Regions from separate parts of the Homo sapiens genome. Here region 1 is linked to region 2. Evidence: fine-mapped expression QTL. A gene starts in region 2. The other region holds a variant in brackets. All regions are shown on one strand. Distances are between the middles of the regions. Region 1 overlaps RPL34-DT (RPL34 divergent transcript). Region 2 holds the start of RPL34-DT (RPL34 divergent transcript).

Evidence for each region.
Region 1: its variant is fine-mapped to the expression of RPL34-DT in whole blood (INTERVAL, PIP 0.90).

What each region holds. Positions count from the first base shown.
Region 1 is chr4:108,588,405-108,593,786 of GRCh38, forward strand. All of the region lies in intron 1 of RPL34-DT (RPL34 divergent transcript), which reads right to left. Among named protein-coding and RNA genes, the nearest start is that of RPL34-DT, 29 kb to the right of the region's middle. The variant GA/G (reference allele first, on the strand shown) is at 2,972.
Region 2 is chr4:108,617,788-108,623,169 of GRCh38, forward strand. It overlaps RPL34-DT (RPL34 divergent transcript), which reads right to left and starts at 2,670. Exons shown (of 4, transcript NR_026968.1): 1 at 2,521-2,670. RPL34 (ribosomal protein L34) reads left to right here and starts at 2,789. Exons shown (of 5, transcript NM_001319236.2): 1 at 2,789-2,813; 2 at 4,164-4,237; 3 at 4,318-4,417; 4 at 4,728-4,831. The coding sequence starts at 4,173. RefSeq lists enhancers at 2,327-3,526, 2,752-2,801.

The DNA.
Region 1 (5,382 bases), 29 kb before region 2:
TTGAACCCAAAAGGCAGAGGCTCCAGTTAGCTGAGATCGCACCACTGCATTCCAGCCTGGGGAACAGAGGGAGACTCCATCTCAAAAAAACATCAAAAACAAACAAACAAAGAAAGTATATTATTGCCTATATTAAAGATCTTGTAGGGTACTAAGATCAAGATTCTGGATATGTTTGGACATTGTTCAGCTGTGGGTTGAAGACTGGGATGAAGGTGCACTGACCTTAGAACTTGCCTTTGTAACTATTACTTTTTATTAAATGACTTATACTGCATTTTTTTTATGATTCCCCTATTTTTCCTGAAAGCCAAGTATAGAAGCTAATTCTAGTTAATTTATGGTTTCATTTAATTAAGTTCCACTTAAATGAGATTTTACTGTAACATGGTCAATTGTATTATGAATTATGAGATTTATTTGGGGCAAAGTTAGCACTTACAGGCTGGAAGAAACCTAATGTCTTTAAAACTTGAAAGAAGAGTCTTCTTAGAACTTATTTTCTGGATGCCACACAGGTCTGCCTCTTTCTGATGAAACCTAATTCCAAGCATCACTTTTTATCTCTAAGAACTCCAGCTCTGATTGTGTCTTTGCTTTGGTGACACCCTGGCGGTTCCTTTCTGTTGCTCAGAATTTGTCAAAAGAATAAGGAAGATCCTGATGAGCTCAGTCTCCCTTACCCACCACTAGGTCAAGCCTCCCTCTCTGAAGAGTCCTTCTCATCCTTATGCCTGCTTCCAGAGTTGGTGGGGTTGGCTTTGGAGCAGGACTTAATTTTGCCTCATTTAAAATCATGTGCTCAATTGCTTTCTTTCTCTTAAATAATGAAAAGCCAGCAAAGAATAGCTTAATGCATAAGGAAAAATGAATTTAGAGAAATTATTCATCTGCCTGTAAATAATAGCTTCATGGATATGAGGTAGCTAATTCTCGACAATATTAGGTGCTCTTTCAATAAAAGCAAGAGAAAGAAAATATCTCAGAAATTTCTTTGTCATGCTTAAAAGTCCTCTGTCCCCCACTCCCCACAATTCCCTGTTTTTTTTTTTAGAAGGGATATTTGTTCTCTCTTATAATCTGGAAATGTATGTGCCTAATTAAAATAAGATGTACTCTTTAAATGATGAAAATAAAAAGTGATCAAAATAGATTTTTGTTATCCTTGGGGCATTGGGAGTTTAAACGCAAACTGCATGGCTTGCAGTGTGGAGAATTAATTATTGGTAATTGAAGTTGTAAGCTTAATTCCCTGCTTGCTTCAATGAAAATGAATCCTTTTATTTAATATTGAAATAAGCACCACTAACCTCATGATCTGAGACAGCACATGCACTCAGCTTTTGAGCAACAGTGAATGTTTAAAAAGCTTTATCTTTTTAACACTGAATTGTGATTAAAACAAAACAAAACAGAAACACCAGCTTGCGGGAGTGGTATAAATACATTAGCAAATAACATAATAGATGGTATTTGGGTACTCTTAATAGATGCTGTTCTTATTCACCAGTAAGAGACTTCATTTTGTATTCAAATAAAAGTCTAAACCATTAAAAAATGCATTTATGCTTTTTGAAAACTTGTCCTGAGTAAAATATTTTCGTTGGCTTGTTTTGTCATGTTGAAGCAGGGTGACCGTTCAAACTGTTGGGCAGAAAAATTTCTCTGCCCTGTGTTTCTGCTGTGAGGAGTTCTTGTCTTCCTGAGGAAGCATTACAGCTAATCATGATGTGGACTTTGCCTCCTGCCCAGTTCTCTTGCTGTGTCTGTGCCCCTCTGTGTCTCAAGGAATGTCTCTGGGTATTTACACTGACTGTTCTGTGACTTAGATCTGGTAGATTTCCAGGCCCCCTATTCTATGCCTGCTCTTTGCCTAATTAACATCTACTCCTCTCTCAGATCTCAACTCAAACATTACACCTGAGATTAAGGCAAGCACTCCTCTCTTATATTCTTACCACAGTAAATCATGTTGCAATTACTTGTTTCATGCTTGTCCGTTCTGCCAGAGCACAAGTTCCAAGAAGGCAGGGTCTGCCTTGTTCACGGGTAGAGGTCCAGTAACTAGTTCAGAGCCTTGCATATATGGGGGATCAAGAAACATGTTTGAGTGAATGAATGAATAAATGAATGAATGGTGAATGAATGTTAATCAAGGTTGGTCTGAGCAACACTTGGCAAAATTCCCAGTTTATAGTCCTGAAGTATCCATAACTCTTACAATACAATTAATAATTCATTTTTCTCATTTTTAAATAGGAAATGAATGGGATTAGTATTTTCTGACTTTCTATTTATTGTACTTCATACTTAGTCCTCAGTCAACATTTCCTAAAAGACAATTTATCCATATTTCAGTAAGTAACATCTGTAATTGTGTAATAAGTAACACAAGAAAAATTAAGCTTGTTGTTTAATGTATTTATTAGAGAAAAACCTAGATATTGAAATTCCTTCAAATGAAACAGTGTTGTTTGAATTTGCTCTCAGTGGAACCTATCATTTCTGACCTAGGAGAGGTCTGTTCTTTAAGCAACCAGCCTCTGTGTCCACAAAGTTTGGTCATGGTTTGTAGAAAACTCCTTTGGGTCAGCTCCAAGGGCCAAGTTTGCTCAGATTGCTCAAACTTTCAAAACTATTTTTCTCAAAAGCACAGGGCTTAAATGAACACTTGTTTGATCTAAATATGGTTTCACATTGTCATGGAGAGAAAATAAAGGAGACAGAAGAACGCTTTGGTCTTTATCTCAGTATCCTGAAACTTCTACTTCATTCATTTTTAAAAAAGGAGCAAAAGTAGATCTAAATGGTTTTCTGGGTTAAGATGGTAGACTAAACCACACATCTAATTTTGCTGCTCTACAAAATTCCATAAAACTTGAGTAAAGTGATTTTCTTGAAAAGGTACAACTCACATGAAAAAAACACAAAAACAAAAAAAAGGAGAAACTAAAAAACAAAGAAAAAACTG[GA/G]AAAAAAAAAAAAAAGGCCGGGCACGGTGGCTCACGCCTCTAATCCCAGCACTTCGGGAGGCTGAGGAGGGCAGATCACTTGAGATCAGGTGCTGGCCAACATGGTGAAACCCCGTTTCTACTAAAAATACATAAATTAGCCAGGCATGGTGGTGGGCGCCTGTAATCCCAGCTGCTTGGGAGGCTGAGGCAGGAGAATCACTTGAACCTGGAAGGCGGAGGTTGCAGTGAGTTAAGATCACACCACTGCACTCCAGCCTAGGTGACAGAGTGAGACTCTGGAAAAAAAAAAAAAGAAGAAGAAAGAAAGAAAGAGAGAAAGAGAGAGAAAGAAAGAAAGAGAGAGAGGGAGGGAGGAAAGAAGGAAGGAAGGAAGAAAGAAAGAAAGAAAAAGAGAGAGAGAGAAGGAAAGAAAGAAAGAAAAGAGAGAGAAGGAAAGAAAGAAAGAAAGAAAGAAAGAAAGAAAGAGAAAGAAAGAAAGAGAGAGAGAGAAGGAAAGAAAGAAAGAGAAAGAAAGAAAAAGAAAGAAAGAAAGAAAGAAAGAAAGAAAGAAAGAAAGAAAGAAAGAAAGAAAAAGAAAGGAAGGAAGGAAGGAAGGAAGGAAGGAAGGAAGGAAGAGAAAAGCAAGCAAGCAAGCACAAGAGAATACAAGGGCAGGAAAATTTTGGAATCTGAAAAGCAGACTGACAACTGGCAGTGCCATATACCCCTACCACTGGTGTAGAGGGGAGGCCAAAATAATGAAGAGGGTAAAATGAGGATTGAATGAAAGCTGTTCCATTGGGTTAAATCTCTATACCTTAACTCACATTGCCCTTTCCTCACCTGATTTATTCTGAGGAGTAAGCGCAGCAGAAGGCCTTTGAAATGCAGGACACGAGATACAATTAAAGATCTATCATCATACCAAACACAGACAGATTGCATGACTGAATGCATATGGAATGCTAAAACCTTTCATCACTTCCTCCACTTGGCTTCCAGAATGCCAGAAGCCTGGTCATTTCCCTTTAGTAAGGAGATCGGAAGAATGTTTTCTGCTAAAAATCTCAACATAGGAGGAAAGTTTTTTGTTTTTTGGGTTTTTTTTTTTTTTTTTTTTGAGATGGAGTCTTGCTCTGTTGCCCAGGCTGGAGTGCAGTGGCGCGATCTCCGCTCACTGAAGCCTCTGGCTCCCAGGTTCAAGCAATTCTCTGCCTCAGCCTCCCAAATAGCTGGGATTACAGGCATGTACCACGACACCCAGCTAATTTTTGTATTTTTAGTAGAGATGGGGTTTCATCATGTTGGCCAGGCTGGTCTTGAACTCCTGGCCTCAAGTGATCTGCCCACCTGGGCCTCCCAAAGTGCTGGGATTACACGCATGAGCCACCATGCCCTGCCAGGAGGAAAGATTTTTTAAATATTGACATTGGAAGTACAAAGAGCCTATCCAGACCACTTGACAGTGACATCCAAAGTAAACAAGCTCCACAGAAGCACCCAGAGCAACCAATTATGATTTAAATCCCTTGTTCTTAATTATAAAGGAAGGATGACAAGATATGGAAGATAAAGACCAAACCAATAAACAAAAGAAAGCAACTTGAAGGAAATAGAGACTATACGGTGGGGGGTGGGGCGGGGGGAAACTCCAACAAAGCTATTCTTTTTTTTTTTTTTTTTTTTTTTGAGACAGGGTCTCATTCTGTTGCCCAGGCTGGAGTTTAGTGGCTCTATCTTGGCTCACTGTAGCTTCGATCTCCTGGGCTCAAGCAATTCTCCCAACTAATCCTCCTGATTAGCCAGGACCACAGGCATGCACCAATATGACCAGCTAATTTTTTTTTATTTAATTTAATTAATTTATATATTTATTTATTTGAGGTAGAGTCTAGCTCTGCCGCCCAGGCTGGAGTGTAGTGGCGTGACCGCAGCTCACTGCAACCTCCGCCTCCCAGGCTCAAGCAATTCTCCTGCCTCACCCTCTCAAGTAAGTGGGATTACAGGCGCATGCAACCACATCCAGCTAATTTTTATATTTTTTTAGTAGAGACGGGGTTTCACCATGTTGGCCAAGTTGGTCTTGAACTCCTGACGTCAAGTGATCTGCCCACCTCGGCCTCCCAAAGTGCTGGGATTACAGGCGTGAGCCACTGTGCCCGGCCACCAGCTAATTTTTGTATTTTTTTTTTTTTTTAATTTTACTTTAAGTTCTGGGATACATGTGCTGAATGTGCAGGCTTGTTACATAGGTATACATGTGCCATGGTGGTTTCCTGCACCTATCAACCTGTAATCTAGGTTTTAAGCCCTGCATGCATTAGGTATTTGTCTTAATGCTCTCTGTCCCCTTTCCCCCGACCTCCAACTTTTGTATTTTTAGAGGAGACAGGGTCTCATCATGTTGCCGAGGCTGCTGTCGAACTCC
Region 2 (5,382 bases):
AGGATCTCTCTATGTTGCTCAGGCTGGCAACTTCAGTGGAAGTGCAGTGGTGCAATCTTGGCTCCCTGCAACCTCCACCTCCCAGGCACAAGTGATTCTCGTGCCTCAGCCTCCTGAGTATCTGGGATTACAGGCACCTGTCACCACGCCCAGATAATTTTTGTATTTTTAGTAGAGACGGGGTTTCGCCATGTTGGCCAGGCTGGTCTTGAACTCCTGGCATCAAGCGATCCACCTGCCTTGGCCTCCCAAAGTGCTGGGATTACAGGGATGAGCCACCACACCCGGCCTAAAGAATCTCATTTGTTTTTTTAATCTGTCTTTGTTCTCTGTTCATTAATTTCTGTGTGCACTTAATAAATATTTTACAAATTTTTGTGAAATTAAAATAAGGTGAACCTATCATACTTTTTTTGGCTTGGACTGGGAAACTTTGAGGTTTAACATTTTTTTATTTAAGGGTTTTTTGATAAAAGCTATTAATTGTAATGTGGTCAGATTTATTGGTCTTTTCTGAGTTTGTGCTTTTTGTGCCTTGTTTAAAAAATCCTCTTCTACTCCAACGTCTATAAGATAGTCACCTATATTTCCTAATAAATTAAAGCCTTATTATTGACTCATTTAAGGTTTTTTTTTTCAGTGTAGAGTGACTTAAGGATACAATTTTTTCTTTCCATATGTATAACCATTTTTCCCAACTTCATTTACTGAATAGTCACCAATCTTTCCCCACCAATCTGATATATTACCTTTGTCATATACCAAAGTTTCATACATTTATTATTATTATTATTATTATTGAGATAGGATCTCATTCTGTTGCCCAGGCTGGAGTATGGTGGCACAATCATGGTTCACTGCAGCCTCAAACTTCTAGGCTCAAGTGATCCTCCAGCCTCAGCCTCCTGAGTAGGTGGGACTAAAGGTGTGTGCTACAACACCTGGCTAATTAAAAAAAAAAAATTTGTAGAGATGGGCGTCTCGCTATGTTGCCCAGGCTGATCTTTAACTACAGGTCTCAGTGATCTTTCTGTATCAGCCTCCCGAAGTGCTAGGATTAACAGGCATGGGCCACTGTACCTGGCTGTCTTTGAAGTTTTTAATAAGATTGCCATATCTCTCTCAAGACTGATCAAGAAAAAATGCAAATACAAATTTAAAGAGAGGGAAAAATAGTATTATGGAACTGGGTTAAGTACCTTAAGGGAAAACTACAACAATGAGACCACTATTCTTATCTACTTGGGTGGGGGAAGGCACGGACAGAGACGTAAACAACAGCATAGTGTGCCAAGGGCTCCCATCTCCTGTTCTCTTCTGCTCTGCAAAGTCTCTCTTAAAATATAGAGAACATATTGCAAGTAAATACATTCATTAGTGCATTTATTCAAAAACCACATTTGTCTCTCTATGCAAGCTTCCATCTCAATGCCTGGCACAGAGACGAAAAGGATTTCAGAGGACAAAAATCAAAGGACTGGAAAGGAGGGAAGTAGCTGATGACAAGGTCGGGGGAGAAGCAGCTATTTGAGAGTGAGCAGAGGGAAGGATATAACCAGAGCCTTCCATCTGGTGTTGTGACAAAGATGGCAGTGATGTGAGGCTTGATAGAATCAATAGGCCTCACAGTTCAAGACAGACTACATGCCCTCAGTCACTTGCCTGCTTTCTTGGTTTGCTAGATGGATTAGAAATACTAGAAGGAAAGTTGAGTGGGTACTGGGATATCCTATCCAAATCCTCTCTTCTGGGGCAATGCAGCTGCCTCACAGCAACCACGTTGTGGATCACCTGACCCCGCCTTTCTCAGCTTCCTGGAGGTGCATTCTAAGAGCGCTCCCCATAAGCCAACACTCAAGTCTCTTCGAGGTGTGTTTCCAGGGAGCCTGATCTAAGATTAAAAACTTAAAGGCCCCTTTTAGAATTGTCTTTTACAGCCCAGGCAAAGAGTTCTTTACTTTTTTAGAGGTCATGAATCCCTTTGACAAGGTGATGAAAGCCAGGGACCCTCTTCTCAGAAAAATACACACGTGCGCTTAATGTAAAATTTTACATACTGTTTTAAAGGTTAAACTTTACCACCCATGAAAAGCCTCAAGTAGTTCTTTGTACATAATCATAAGATTAGCAACCATTTACTGAGCACTTCCTCTCTATAAGACCCTGTGCTAAGTGCTTTAACTTCATAATGCCTTTGATCATGACATAACATGGCACGGTAGTTCCTAATATCTTCCTTTTAGAGATTTAAGGGCTTGCTCAAAGTAACATAGCTAATAATTAGCAGACACTGGATTAAAATCCCAATTTGTTTGTAAAGCTTGTGCTCTGAATAAATGACAAGGAAAGAGAAGGGAAGGTTGAAGAAGGGAAGGTTCTTGAAGGTCCCTGGTCCTTGAAGGTCCCTTAACCATAAATGTCAAGAGTTGGGATTTAAACCCAGGTCTAACGCCAGAGCTGGCGCCCTTTAGATTAAAAGTGCAGTGTCCATGACAACGAAAGAAGTTGATTTTGTCCCACCTTTGCTCTTTGCGGCTTTTCATTTGCGTTTGTTTCCACAGCGATTTCCAATAGATTTCTGCGTGGCCTTGACACAGACAGCTAGTGTGAATCCCCGCCCACAGAGGGGCGGCACGTTGGTTGCCGTACAACGTGGTGGTTCCCTGCATCTCTGCCCACGTCGGAGAGGTGCGTCGGCTTCCGTACAACACGGATACTCTCTCTCTGACGCAACTTCCTGTCCTGCGCAATTCTATTTGACCTTTGAACTGGCAAAGGCTTTTTTCTTCCTCTTCCGGGGACGTTGTCTGCAGGTATGGATGTTGTTCTCTTTTCCCTGTCTTTATTTCCTTACCAATCGGCTGCCATCCGAGGAGCTGAGGAAGCCTAGAGCTCTCAGAAGCAGTCCTTTGAGCTGGTGTAGGGGTAAGGGGCACAACAGGGAGGTTGGTGGTGAGGAAGTTCCTTACTTTGATCTTTGGAAATCCCTTGTTCCTGGTGGCACCTCCAAAGCCGTGAGTAGCCACAGCTCACCACCCGGGACTTTGCTGCATTCCAAGTGTAGCGTTTGGAGACTAACGAGTTGTGGTTTGGCGGTTTGAGTCTGGAAAATCGCCAAACGTTTTCATATTTTACACCCACGTTTTCACAGCACGCCTGTACGTGTCCTTAGTCTTTGGGAGGGCAGGGTCCGGCGAGTTCGGGTGGTTTCGCTATTTGGCTTCTGCGTCCAAGGCCCATGTCAAGGAAGAGAAAAATGTGTTAGAAGTTTCTGTCTTGCTTTTGGAGATGCAAACAGAATAATGGCTTCATAAATCACTCGCACTGGTTTTACGTGTCAAGTTTTGGTGTCTGGTAATTCTGTTTTAGTTTAATTTTAGTGAGAGGCTTGTGACAACAAATGAGGTGGTTACAAGGGGTGGAATGGGAAGATTAAATTAGTTCAAGTATTGATTATGTTTTACGTTGGGTAGTTCCCTTAACGAAGTTGCTCGTATGCATATCTGTATAACCGATTTGCTAAATAACATCACGATGTTTCCAGAAGTGGGAAGAAAGCAGGTGCCATAACCCAAAGAAACTTGTGTAATATCAAAATTAGTATTAAAGGGTATGCCTTTACGCAGGTGGTGCTTTAGGGCAAGACATTGAACCCTGATATGTGCCAGGCATTGTGTTGGGACGGATAGCCCACGTCGTTTAATCCTAATGACAGCTGTATAAAGTAGACAGAATTCCCATGTTAGAGATAAGGAGGCTAGCTCCTTGCCCTTTATATTCCCAGTAAATGGCATAGCTAAGGATTCGACTTCAGAGCTCACTTTTTGTGCTCTTTGTTTAAAGCGGTGTTTCTCCAACTGGGCTCGTGGCACTTTTCTGGACACCACTCCAAACAAAATTAGACTCTGAGTAAGGAGCCTGGTCATCAGAACGTTAAGGAAGTGCCACGTTTGATTACCATCAGGAAAGCTAACATTCTTGGCCTCTTGTTTATCAGTCACCTTTAAATACAAGTAGTTTTAAAATGTGGAATAATACATCTTAATTTAAGGGTGTTACATACAAGGATATGTATGTGAATGAAATAGACCACATGATACTGTTTTGAGATTTTATTTACTTTTACAATGGAAAGATTTGATGTTACTCTATTCTTAATTTAGGCACTCAGAATGGTCCAGCGTTTGACATACCGACGTAGGCTTTCCTACAATACAGCCTCTAACAAAACTAGGCTGTAAGTATTTCTGAAAATTTTAAGTATATATTGTCATTTACTCTACAAAATGCTGACCTACTGACTGTTTCACTTTCTAGGTCCCGAACCCCTGGTAATAGAATTGTTTACCTTTATACCAAGAAGGTTGGGAAAGCACCAAAATCTGCATGTGGTGTGTGCCCAGGCAGACTTCGAGGGGTAAGTGTACCTTTTACTGTGTGCAGCCTAACAAGTCTTGAACTTACTGAGCTTTCATCCCTTGACGATGGAATGAATCAAGGAGAGGTTACCACTAAGAGGGTTCAGAATTACTAAACATTCATGAGCCAAATCTGCCACGAACATAGACTTTTTAAACCAATCTGAGAAATGCAGTGAAATGCCTTTCAGATAAATGAGTACACCATTTCCCTTTGTAACCTACTTTAAACTTGCCCTTAACACTTAACAAAATTTAGGGAAATTTCTGTTAAAGCATCACAAAAATCTTAATATTTTTCTTATGCAGGTTCGTGCTGTAAGACCTAAAGTTCTTATGAGATTGTCCAAAACAAAGAAACATGTCAGCAGGGCCTATGGTGGTTCCATGTGTGCTAAATGTGTTCGTGACAGGTAAGTTAAATGCTTAAATGGGCTTTCCTTAGCAAATTATTGTGTGTGTTATACTGTCTGCTGATCAGTACAATGGTGAAGCAACTCATTTTAAACCAGTTGCATGCTTTAGAACCCTTTCTTTGCTATGGATAATTGATGCTGCACAAAGCAGGAAATGATATTCAAAGTAATAATTTGGGGGCATATTTATGCTAGATGTGGAGATTAAAAGGAACTTGGTTTTGTTCAGGAGGTGGGTAAGAAAGTCTCTGTTAGTGGTTTGGACAAAGATAGATGGAGTGTGGAAGGTGTTAAAAGTGTAGGAACAGAAGAGTTGTGTATTCTCATGTGCGGAAGGTGTTAAAAGTGTAGGAACAGAAGAGTTGTGTATTCTCATGAGCATAGGGTTGCAGGAGATGATGGACAACAAAGGTAGAAAAGCCAGATTATGGCCAGGTGTGGTGGCTTATGCCTGAAATCCCAACACTTTGGGAGGCGGAGGCAGGCAGATACCTGAGGTTGGGAGTTTGAGACCAGGCTGACCAACATGGAGAAACACCGTCTCTACT